Regions from separate parts of the Homo sapiens genome. Here region 1 is linked to region 2. The links come from fine-mapping of genetic effects on gene expression. A gene starts in region 2. The other region holds a variant in brackets. All regions are shown on one strand. Distances are between the middles of the regions.

What was found. PIP is the estimated chance that this variant, and not a neighbour inherited with it, causes the effect.
Region 1: its variant is the best candidate, but not a certain one, in a credible set for the expression of DNM2 in whole blood (TOPMed, PIP 0.62).

The regions. Positions count from the first base shown.
Region 1 is chr19:10,781,693-10,786,078 of GRCh38, forward strand. DNM2 (dynamin 2) reads left to right here. Exons shown (of 21, transcript NM_001005361.3): 6 at 1,268-1,428. Among named protein-coding and RNA genes, the nearest start is that of MIR4748, 3.6 kb to the left of the region's middle. The variant G/A (reference allele first, on the strand shown) is at 2,360.
Region 2 is chr19:10,716,421-10,720,806 of GRCh38, forward strand. It overlaps DNM2 (dynamin 2), which reads left to right and starts at 1,659. Exons shown (of 21, transcript NM_001005361.3): 1 at 1,659-1,983. The coding sequence starts at 1,823. MIR638 (microRNA 638) reads left to right here and starts at 1,984; the gene lies at 1,984-2,083. RefSeq lists enhancers at 738-927, 1,118-1,237, 2,678-2,817 and a silencer at 1,518-2,187.

The sequences.
Region 1 (4,386 bases), 65 kb after region 2:
GAGCTGAGGTTGCACCACTGCACTTCAGCCTGGGCAGCAAGAGTGAAACTCTGTCTCAAAACAAAAAACCCCACAAAACAAAAACCTAGCCAGGAGTGCAATGGTAGGCATTCCACTTGGATTCTTTGCAACAGTGTGTATTGAATTATCCAGCTTTTCTCCCCCATATACTGAAGCGTTAACTTTCAGTTCTACCTCCTTCTCGGTGTAGTTTTGGACTTTCTTTTCAGTTCCATTGATCTCTCTGGACATGAATACCCTGATGTACCCAACTGTTTAAAATATACTCGTTTGATAGTGGATTTTAGCTCTTCCCTATTGCTCTTGTTTTTAAGATGTTATTTCTTTTTTTTCTTGTGAGACAAGGCCTCGCTCTGTTGCCCGGGCTGGAGTGCAGTGGGGTGATTACAGCTTGCTGCAACCTCGAACTCCCAGGCTCAGGTGATCCTCCCATCTCAGCCTCCCAGGTAGCTGGGACTATACACGTGTGCTACCACGCCTCGCTAATTTTTGTATATTTTTGTAGAGATGGGGTTTTGCCATGTTACCCAGGCTGGTCTGGAACTCTTGGGCTCAAGCGTTCCACCCGCCTCGGCCTCCCAAAGTGTTGGAATTACAGGCGTGAGCCACCGCACCTGGCCTTGAGATTTTTTTTCTTTTTCTTTTTCTTTTTCTCTTTCTTTTTATTCAGAGTCTTGATCTGTCGCCCAGGCTGAAGTGTAGTTGCATGATCTTGGCTCACTGCAACCTCCGCCTGCCGGGTTCAAGCGGTTCTCCTGCCTCAGCCTCCCGAGTACCTGGGACTATAGTCACGCGCCACCATGCACGGCTAATTTTTTGTATTTTTAGTAGAGGCGGGGTTTCACCATGCTGGCCAGGGTGGCCTCGAGCTCCTTACCTTGTGATCTACCCACCTCAGCCTCCCAAAGTGATGGGATTACAGGCGTGAGCCACCGCTCCCGGCCGAGATTTTTTTCTCACCTATCTTTGAATCTCAGCTTGTAGATTTCATCTGCCCCAAAGCTTTTTTCTGTCCCTGCGCACACAGGCTGGATGTGAGCTCTCCTTCCTCCAAATACTTAATGTTGCTCTTCGCAGCTGCCATGTGCATTCGCACCCTCTGTGTTGTTTCTGAGTAACATGTTATGACAGCTGTGAGTGCCTCGTGGGACAGGATCCATCTCTATACTTGAATCTTGCCCATCCCCGTGCCAGGTCCACTTGGCTCACCTAGCTTTGCCCCTGACCTGACTGCCTCTCCCCACAGGCTACATTGGCGTGGTGAACCGCAGCCAGAAGGATATTGAGGGCAAGAAGGACATCCGTGCAGCACTGGCAGCTGAGAGGAAGTTCTTCCTCTCCCACCCGGCCTACCGGCACATGGCCGACCGCATGGGCACGCCACATCTGCAGAAGACGCTGAATCAGGTACTGCAAGGGTTTGCACGTAGTGTGCAGTGGCATAGGCTGTGCACTGCACAACAGCTGCAATCCTCACTGGCACTTGTTTCAGGCTAGAGCAGCACTTGTTTTAGCAAAATGGGTTCAGTCCACATTTAGCCTAGGAGTTTGAGACCAGTCTGGGCAACATATGGAGACCCCATCTCTAGGAAAAATAGAAAAAATTAGCTAAGCATGGTGGCACATGCCTGTAGTCCCAGGTACTCAGGAGGCTGAGGCAGGAGGATCACTTGAGCCTGGAAAATCAAGGCTTCAGTGAGCCATGTTCATGCCACTGCACTCCAGCCTGGGCAATAGAGTGAGACCCTGTTTCAAAAACTTAAATAACTAAATAAAAGAAATGTACTTGATTCAGGGTCTGGTGAAGAGCAGATGTTCAGTGACTTGGTGCTGCTACTATTACAACCATCACTGTTATTATTACCAAAATTTTAATTATCATTGTAATTATTCAGTCATTTACCCAGAAGACTGTATGCATTGCCTGGGGTTGGTGACAGGGGGTTAATAACTCTTTTTTATTTATTATTATTATTATTATTATTATTATTATTTTTTATTTTTGGAGACACAGTCTCACTCTGTCACCTAGGCTAGAGTGCAGTGGCATGATCTTGGCTCACTGCAACCTCCACGTCCCAGGTTCGAGTGATTCTCCTGCCTCAGCTTCCTGAGTAGCTGGGATTACAGGCGTGTGCCACCACACCTGGCTAATTTTTGTATTTTTAGTAGAGATGGAGTTTCACCATGTTGGCCAGGCTGGTCTCAAATTCTGAGCTCGAGTGATCCGCCTGTGTCAGCCTCCTGAAGTGCTGAGATTACAAGCATGAGCCACCATGCCTGGCCTATCGTTCTCTTCTTGTAAGTAATTGATTCACATGGTGCATAAACAGAAATG[G/A]TATTAAAAGCTATACAGTGGGCCAGTGTGTGGTAGCAGGGGCAAGACGCTCCTCCTCGCTGTTTTCTAGCACCTTCCAGGGTGGCAGCAGGGCCTCAGCAGCACTCCAGCAGTCATCTTTTCATGCACATATCAGGGGGACACAGTGTCCACACGAGAGTAGGTTCCTGTCCTTGTAGAAGGCATAATTCTAATGGGGGAGACTGACACCCAACAAACCGCCAGATAAATGCACGATCAAGAATCCAGTAGGGGCGCGGGGGCCGGGAAAAGAGCCACCCAGAGAAGGCAGCTCAGGAGAGCAAAGAGGGAAGTCAGTGTCTAGAGGGAGGGGCCCTCCAGGAGAGGAAGCTGGGGTGCTTACAAACGGGAGTAGGGAGAGGAAGGGAAGTAAAACTCCGCAGCTGGCTGGGGCCTCCTGAGAGCCAGCAGTGAAAAGTCCAGCTGGCCTCCAGGGAGCCTGGAGGGGGCTCAGCCTCCTTCCACGTGGGGTGCTTCCCAGAGCAGCAGCGCCCCTTCCTCTCCATTTGCTCATGACTTAAGTGCCCTAGTATCCTGTCACAGACCAAGGGAAGGCCAGCGTAGCTCCCTGCCTTTCTAGGCAGCCCACATAGACGGGGGTCGATGGCCAGGGCTGCAGGGCAGGGACCCTTGGTCACGGAGGTCTTTGGGTTACCCCACTTGCTCCATGCCATAGATGTGAGGTTCCTTCATGCCTCTTTTCTAGCTCGCCAGACACTTTGTATTTATTTTTTATTTTTTTGATGATTTTTTTTTTTTTTTTTTTTTTGAGACAGAGCCTCACTCTGTTGCCCGGGCTGGAGTGCAGTGGCATGATCTCAGCTCACTCCAGCCTCCACCTCCCAGGTTCAAGTGATTCTCATGCCTCAGCCTCCCAAGTAGCTGGGATTACAGGCGTGCGCCACCACACTCAACTAACTTTTGTATTTTTAGCAGAGACAGGGTTTCACCATGTTGGCCAGGCTTGTCTCCTAATCTCAGGTGATCTGCCCGCCTTAGCCTCCCAAAGTGCTGGGATTACAGGCGTGAGCCACTGTACCCATCCCGGCCTTCCCCTCAACCCCAGATGGAGTCTCGCTCTGTTGCCCAGGCTGGAGTACAGTGGCACAATCTCGGCTCACTGTAAGCTCCGTCTCCCGGGTTCACACCATTCTCCTGCCTCAGCCTCCCGAGTAGCTGGGACTATAGGCACCCATCACCACACCCGGCTAATTTTTTTTTTTTTTTTGTATTTTTAGTAGAGACGGGGTTTCACCGTGTTAGCTGGGATGGTCTTGATCTCTTGACCTCATGATCTGCCTGCCTTGGCCTCCCAAAGTGCTGGAATTACAGTGTGAGCCACTGCCCCCGGCCCATGCCCAGCCTTTTTGATTTTTCAGACAAGGTCTTACTCTGTTGTCCAGAATGGATTGCAGTGACACAAACACGGCTCATTGCATCCTCAGCCTCCTGTACTCAAGCGATCCTTTTGCCTTAGCCTCCTGAGTAGCTGGGACTACAGGTGTGTGCTGCCACACCTAGCTAATTTTTAAAACTTTTTTTATCTTTTGTAGAGAGAAGGTCTCACCATATTGCCTGGGCTGGTCTCAAACGCCTATCCTCTAGTGATCTGTCTCAACCTCCCCAAGTGCTAGGATTACAGGCGTGAGCCACTGCACCCAGCTTTCTCTGTTGTAGGACAGATGGCCAAACTCTGCTTTACACTTTGCAAGTATAGGCTGATTTTATGGCTTTGTTTTTCTTTTTCTTTTTTTTTGAGACAGAGTCTTGCTCTGTCACCCAGGCTGGAGTGCCATTGTGTGATCTCGGCCCACTGCAACCTCCACCTCCCGAGTTCTTTCTCAGCCTCCCAAGTAGCTGAGACTACAGGCACCCACCACCACACCGAGATAATTTTTGTATTTTTTGGTAGAAACAGGGTTTCATTGTGTTGGCCAGGCTGGTCTCGATCTCTTGATCTTAAGTGATCCTTCTGCCTCAGTCTCCCAAAGTGCTGGGATTGCAGG
Region 2 (4,386 bases):
TTCCTTGTCTCTGGCCTATTTGTCTCCAGAGGGGTCAAAACACTTCAAATCCTCCTATTTGTCTCTGTCCACTGTCAGGAGTTCCAGTTCCCAGAACCCCAATTTTGCCTACAAAATAGCGTGTCTTTTCACGGGGAGAGGATTTGTTGAGTTTTAGTGGGTACTCAAAAAGATCTAAAGCCAGTTGGGGGGGTTCACACATGTAATCCCAGCACTTTTGGGAGGCCGGCCTGTGAGGGTCGTTTGGGCGCAGGAGTTTGAGACCAGCCTGGACAACACAGCAAGACCCTGTCTCTATAAAAAATAAAATAAAAATAATTAGCTGGGCATAGTTGCGCACGTCTGTGGTTCCAGCTACTCGGGACGCTGAGGCGGGAGGATCGTTTGAGCCCAGGTGCTTGTTGAATTGAGCTATGAGTGCACTACTGCACCCCAGCCTGGGCAACAGAGTAAGGACCCAGTTTCTAAGAAAAGAAGATTCATTAGCTAGACGCGGTGGCTCACACCTGTAATTCCAACACTTTGGGAGGCCAAGACGGGCGGATCACTTGAGGCCAGGCGTTCGAGACCAGCCTGGCCAATATGGTGAAACCCCGTCTACTAAAAATACAAAATTAGCTGGGCGTGGTGGCTCACACTTGTAATCCCAGCTATTCGGGAGGCTGAGGCAGGAGAATTGGTTGAACCGGGGAGGCGGAGGTTGCAGTGAGCCAAGATCGCGCTACTGCACTCCAGCCTGGGTGACAGAGTGAGTACCCCGCCTCAAAAAAAAGAAAAGAAAAAAGATTCATGATCTGCTAAAGTTGAAGAAGTGGGGGAAAACATTGGAGTGTTAGCGGCGTCAAGATCGGGCGTGAGCAGAAAGGGCACAGCATTTGCAAAGGCGTGGAGGAGTGATTTTATTGCGTTCTATCCCTAGGAAGCAATGACTTGGCCTCTACCATTTGCAGAGCGCATTGGGACCCTGCTCCCAGAGCTGGTTTGCAGTCTGGGAACTGAGATGCGCTCTGGGACTTGTAGTTTTCCCCAGTGCCAGGAAACTCAAAAATCGAGACATCGGATCCCACCACGAGGTGTCGCCCTTGAGCGAGTACGGTGGGATCTATCCTATACTTCAGAAGGCTGTTGCAGACATCCAACAATCACAAGGAAGAACGGGAGTTTTTCTGATTGACAGATATGGTTCTCAATGATAGTCAAGATTCGGATGTTAAAGCCCGCCCTCTTTTGCCTGGTTGGCTGGAGCAACGAAGTGATATTTATATGAACCAATGGGAAATTCTTAGGGAACGAGGTAGTAGCTCAATCCCCAACACCATTGGTCCACATTGTCTACTGGCACGTCTGCCTGCCAATAAGATGGTGGAACTTCGCCAATGGGCAGAGCCAACGTGCCTTTTTCGGAAACACCCCCTTCCTCTCTTGACAACTTGCTTTCTGCCGCTATTGGCTGTTGCACAACAGTGACGGTTCTTTTGTCCAATAAGTCAGCAAGACGGTCCCCAGGGGGAAGGTTTACTCAACCATAGGCCCGTGCCTAGTTTTTATTGGCTAGTGTATCCGAGTGGCGGTGCAGCAGGCCAGTCGCGTGCGGCGCGAGTGCTTTGGGCGCAGCCCCCGGGGCCGGGGCGGGAGGTCGCTCGGGTCGGGTGTCGCCTGAGAACCGGATGAGGCGGCGACCGTGAGGCCGAGCCGGGAGCGGGCGTCTTGCCGAGGCCCGGGCGGGCGGGGAGCAACGGCTACAGACGCCGCGGGGCCAGGTCGTTGAGGGTCGGCGGCGGGCGAGGAGCGCAGGGCGCTCGGGCCGGGGGCCGCCGGCGCCATGGGCAACCGCGGGATGGAAGAGCTGATCCCGCTGGTCAACAAACTGCAGGACGCCTTCAGCTCCATCGGCCAGAGCTGCCACCTGGACCTGCCGCAGATCGCTGTAGTGGGCGGCCAGAGCGCCGGCAAGAGCTCGGTGCTGGAGAACTTCGTGGGCCGGTGAGCGGGCGCGGCAGGGATCGCGGGCGGGTGGCGGCCTAGGGCGCGGAGGGCGGACCGGGAATGGCGCGCCGTGCGCCGCCGGCGTAACTGCGGCGCTTGCGTGCCCGCGGCGGGGAACCGGACGGGGTCGGGGAGGCGGGCCCTGTGGGACGCCCTGGGCAGAGGACTCCCTGCAGGGGCTCCGGAGCAGGCCCGGGCCCCAGGGGCGGTGTCACGGGCCAGGGCGCCGTAGGACAGGAGGTGCGCTGGAACCCTGCGGTCCATCTGGTCCCAGCTTTCGTGGGTGAAGTCTGCCATCTGGTTGGCCGTGGGTCTGGGGTAGATCCCTCTTCTGCTCTTTCGGGCTGTCCATCAGAGGTGAAACCGGCCATCTAGATATCTATTGGGGCGACCGCTGCGGTCTGGCTGGCTTGTTCTTGTATCTGGAGCTGCCCCCGCCGTCTGGTTGGCTGTCTCTCTGTCCTGGGCAAGCCTCCCTGCCACCACCATTTGGTTGTCCATCTGTCCAGTCCCACCTGGCAGCCCCCTGCTGTCTGGCTAGCTGTCCAGGGTGACCTCTGCTGTCTGGCCGCCCATCCGTGCCCCTCACAGACTTTAACACTGAGCAGTCCCTCTGTTGGGTGACACCAGCTGGCCTCTACTGTCTGACTGGCTAGCTGACTCCTAGGGGACCCTGTTTGATTCTCTCTGGCTGACTCTTACAGCTTGATTCCTGGCTAGCGCTGGCTCCTCTCTTCCGTGTGAATTCTTCTGTCTGTCTGGCCATCTCCTAGTCTGCCCATGACTACCCCTGAGTGTCTGGCACAACGGCTCTGGAAAGGGGTGGTAGGAGGGTAGAGGGGAGAACAGAGCTGAAGGAGGAGGTTTGGACCCTACTTCCCCTCTCAGCTGGAAGGAGGACTCTGGGGGTACCTTACTTCAGGATTCCTTTCCGAGTGCTAGAACACAGGGGCCCGCCTCCCAGCTACAGCCTACAAATTGGGGGCCCTCCTTTGGAGCCTGGGAAGGGGCTTCTTGCGTGATCAGGCCTCAGTGGCTAGCGCTGGGATGTAGCCTTCTCTGGACAGCCTTGAGAAGCCGCGGTGTGCCCATCTGTCCAGTGGGCAAACTCCACTCTCTGGGGCTGTTTCCAGGATTCAGGAAGCAAATGAATGAGAACAGCCCGTGCAGCCACCTCTCCCTCCCACCAACCCCTCTTGCCTTTCTTGTCTCCCAGATGGGCGGCCACTTCTCCATTCCAGGAACTACTCATTTGTGGTGGTGTGGCTGCCAAATGATAACATCCTCCTCCTGTCATTATTGTCATTGTTATTGTTGTTATCATTGTCAAGGGATAATGTCCCTTCTTGATTCAACATCTTGAATCCCAAGTAAGGAGTGGGGTGGAGGCTGTGTTATCATCCCCACCTTAGCTGAGCTGGGAGGCTCAGAAGGGACTGTGATCACCCAAGGCCACTAGGCTGGCGTAAGGCCTTGTGTCTGCCATCCCAGAGCCTTGGGGCTTTGCTCCAAGCAGCACAAATCTCCTCTTTTGCTACCTTGTCTCTAGCTCATTGCCTTCTGTCTACCGTGGTGGAAAGGTGTGGACTTGCAGCCAGCTGGGCCTGGCCTGATCTCAGGCTGGACTGTGGTGTGGGCCCCTTTGAGTGACCATCTTCCTGCCTGCCCAGGCTTCTGGGACGGGGGTGGGGGGTGTTTGCAAAGCTCTGTCTCTTTCACTTGCCTTGTGACCTTGCACAGGTTGTCTTGGCCTCTCTAAGTCTTGGTTGACTCTCCTAAACAAGTTTATTTTATTTTATTTATTTATTTATTTTTTTTTTTTTTGAGACAGAGTCTCCCTCTGTCATCCAGTCTGGAGTGCAGTGGAGCAATCTTGGCTCACTGCAACCTCTGCCTCCCAGGTTCAGGCCATTCTTCTGCCTCAGCCTCCCGAGTAGCTGGGATTACAGGCGTCTACCACCAAGCCCAACTAATTTTTGTATTTTTAGTAGAGACGGGGTTTCACCATGTTGGCCAGGCTGGTCTCAAACTACTTACCTCAAGTGATCCTCATGCCTTGGCCTCCCAGAGTGCTGGGATTACAGGTGTGAGCCACCAAGCCTCGCCCCAGGAGTTCCAAGACCAGCCTGGGTAACATGACAAGATGCCATTCTACAAAAAATAAAAAAATTAGCCAGGTAGGGTGGTAGTCCCACACCTGTAGTCCCAGCAACTCAGGAGGCTGGCCCTGGGAGGACTGCTTGAGCCCAGGATGTCCAGACTGCAGTGAGCCGTGATTGCACCATTACCCTCCAGCCTGGGTGACAGAACCAGATCCGGTTTCAAAAAAAGAAAAGAAAAAGTGCTTACTTACCTAACGCACTGCCTGGCACATAGTAGGTCTACATGGATGGGGCTATT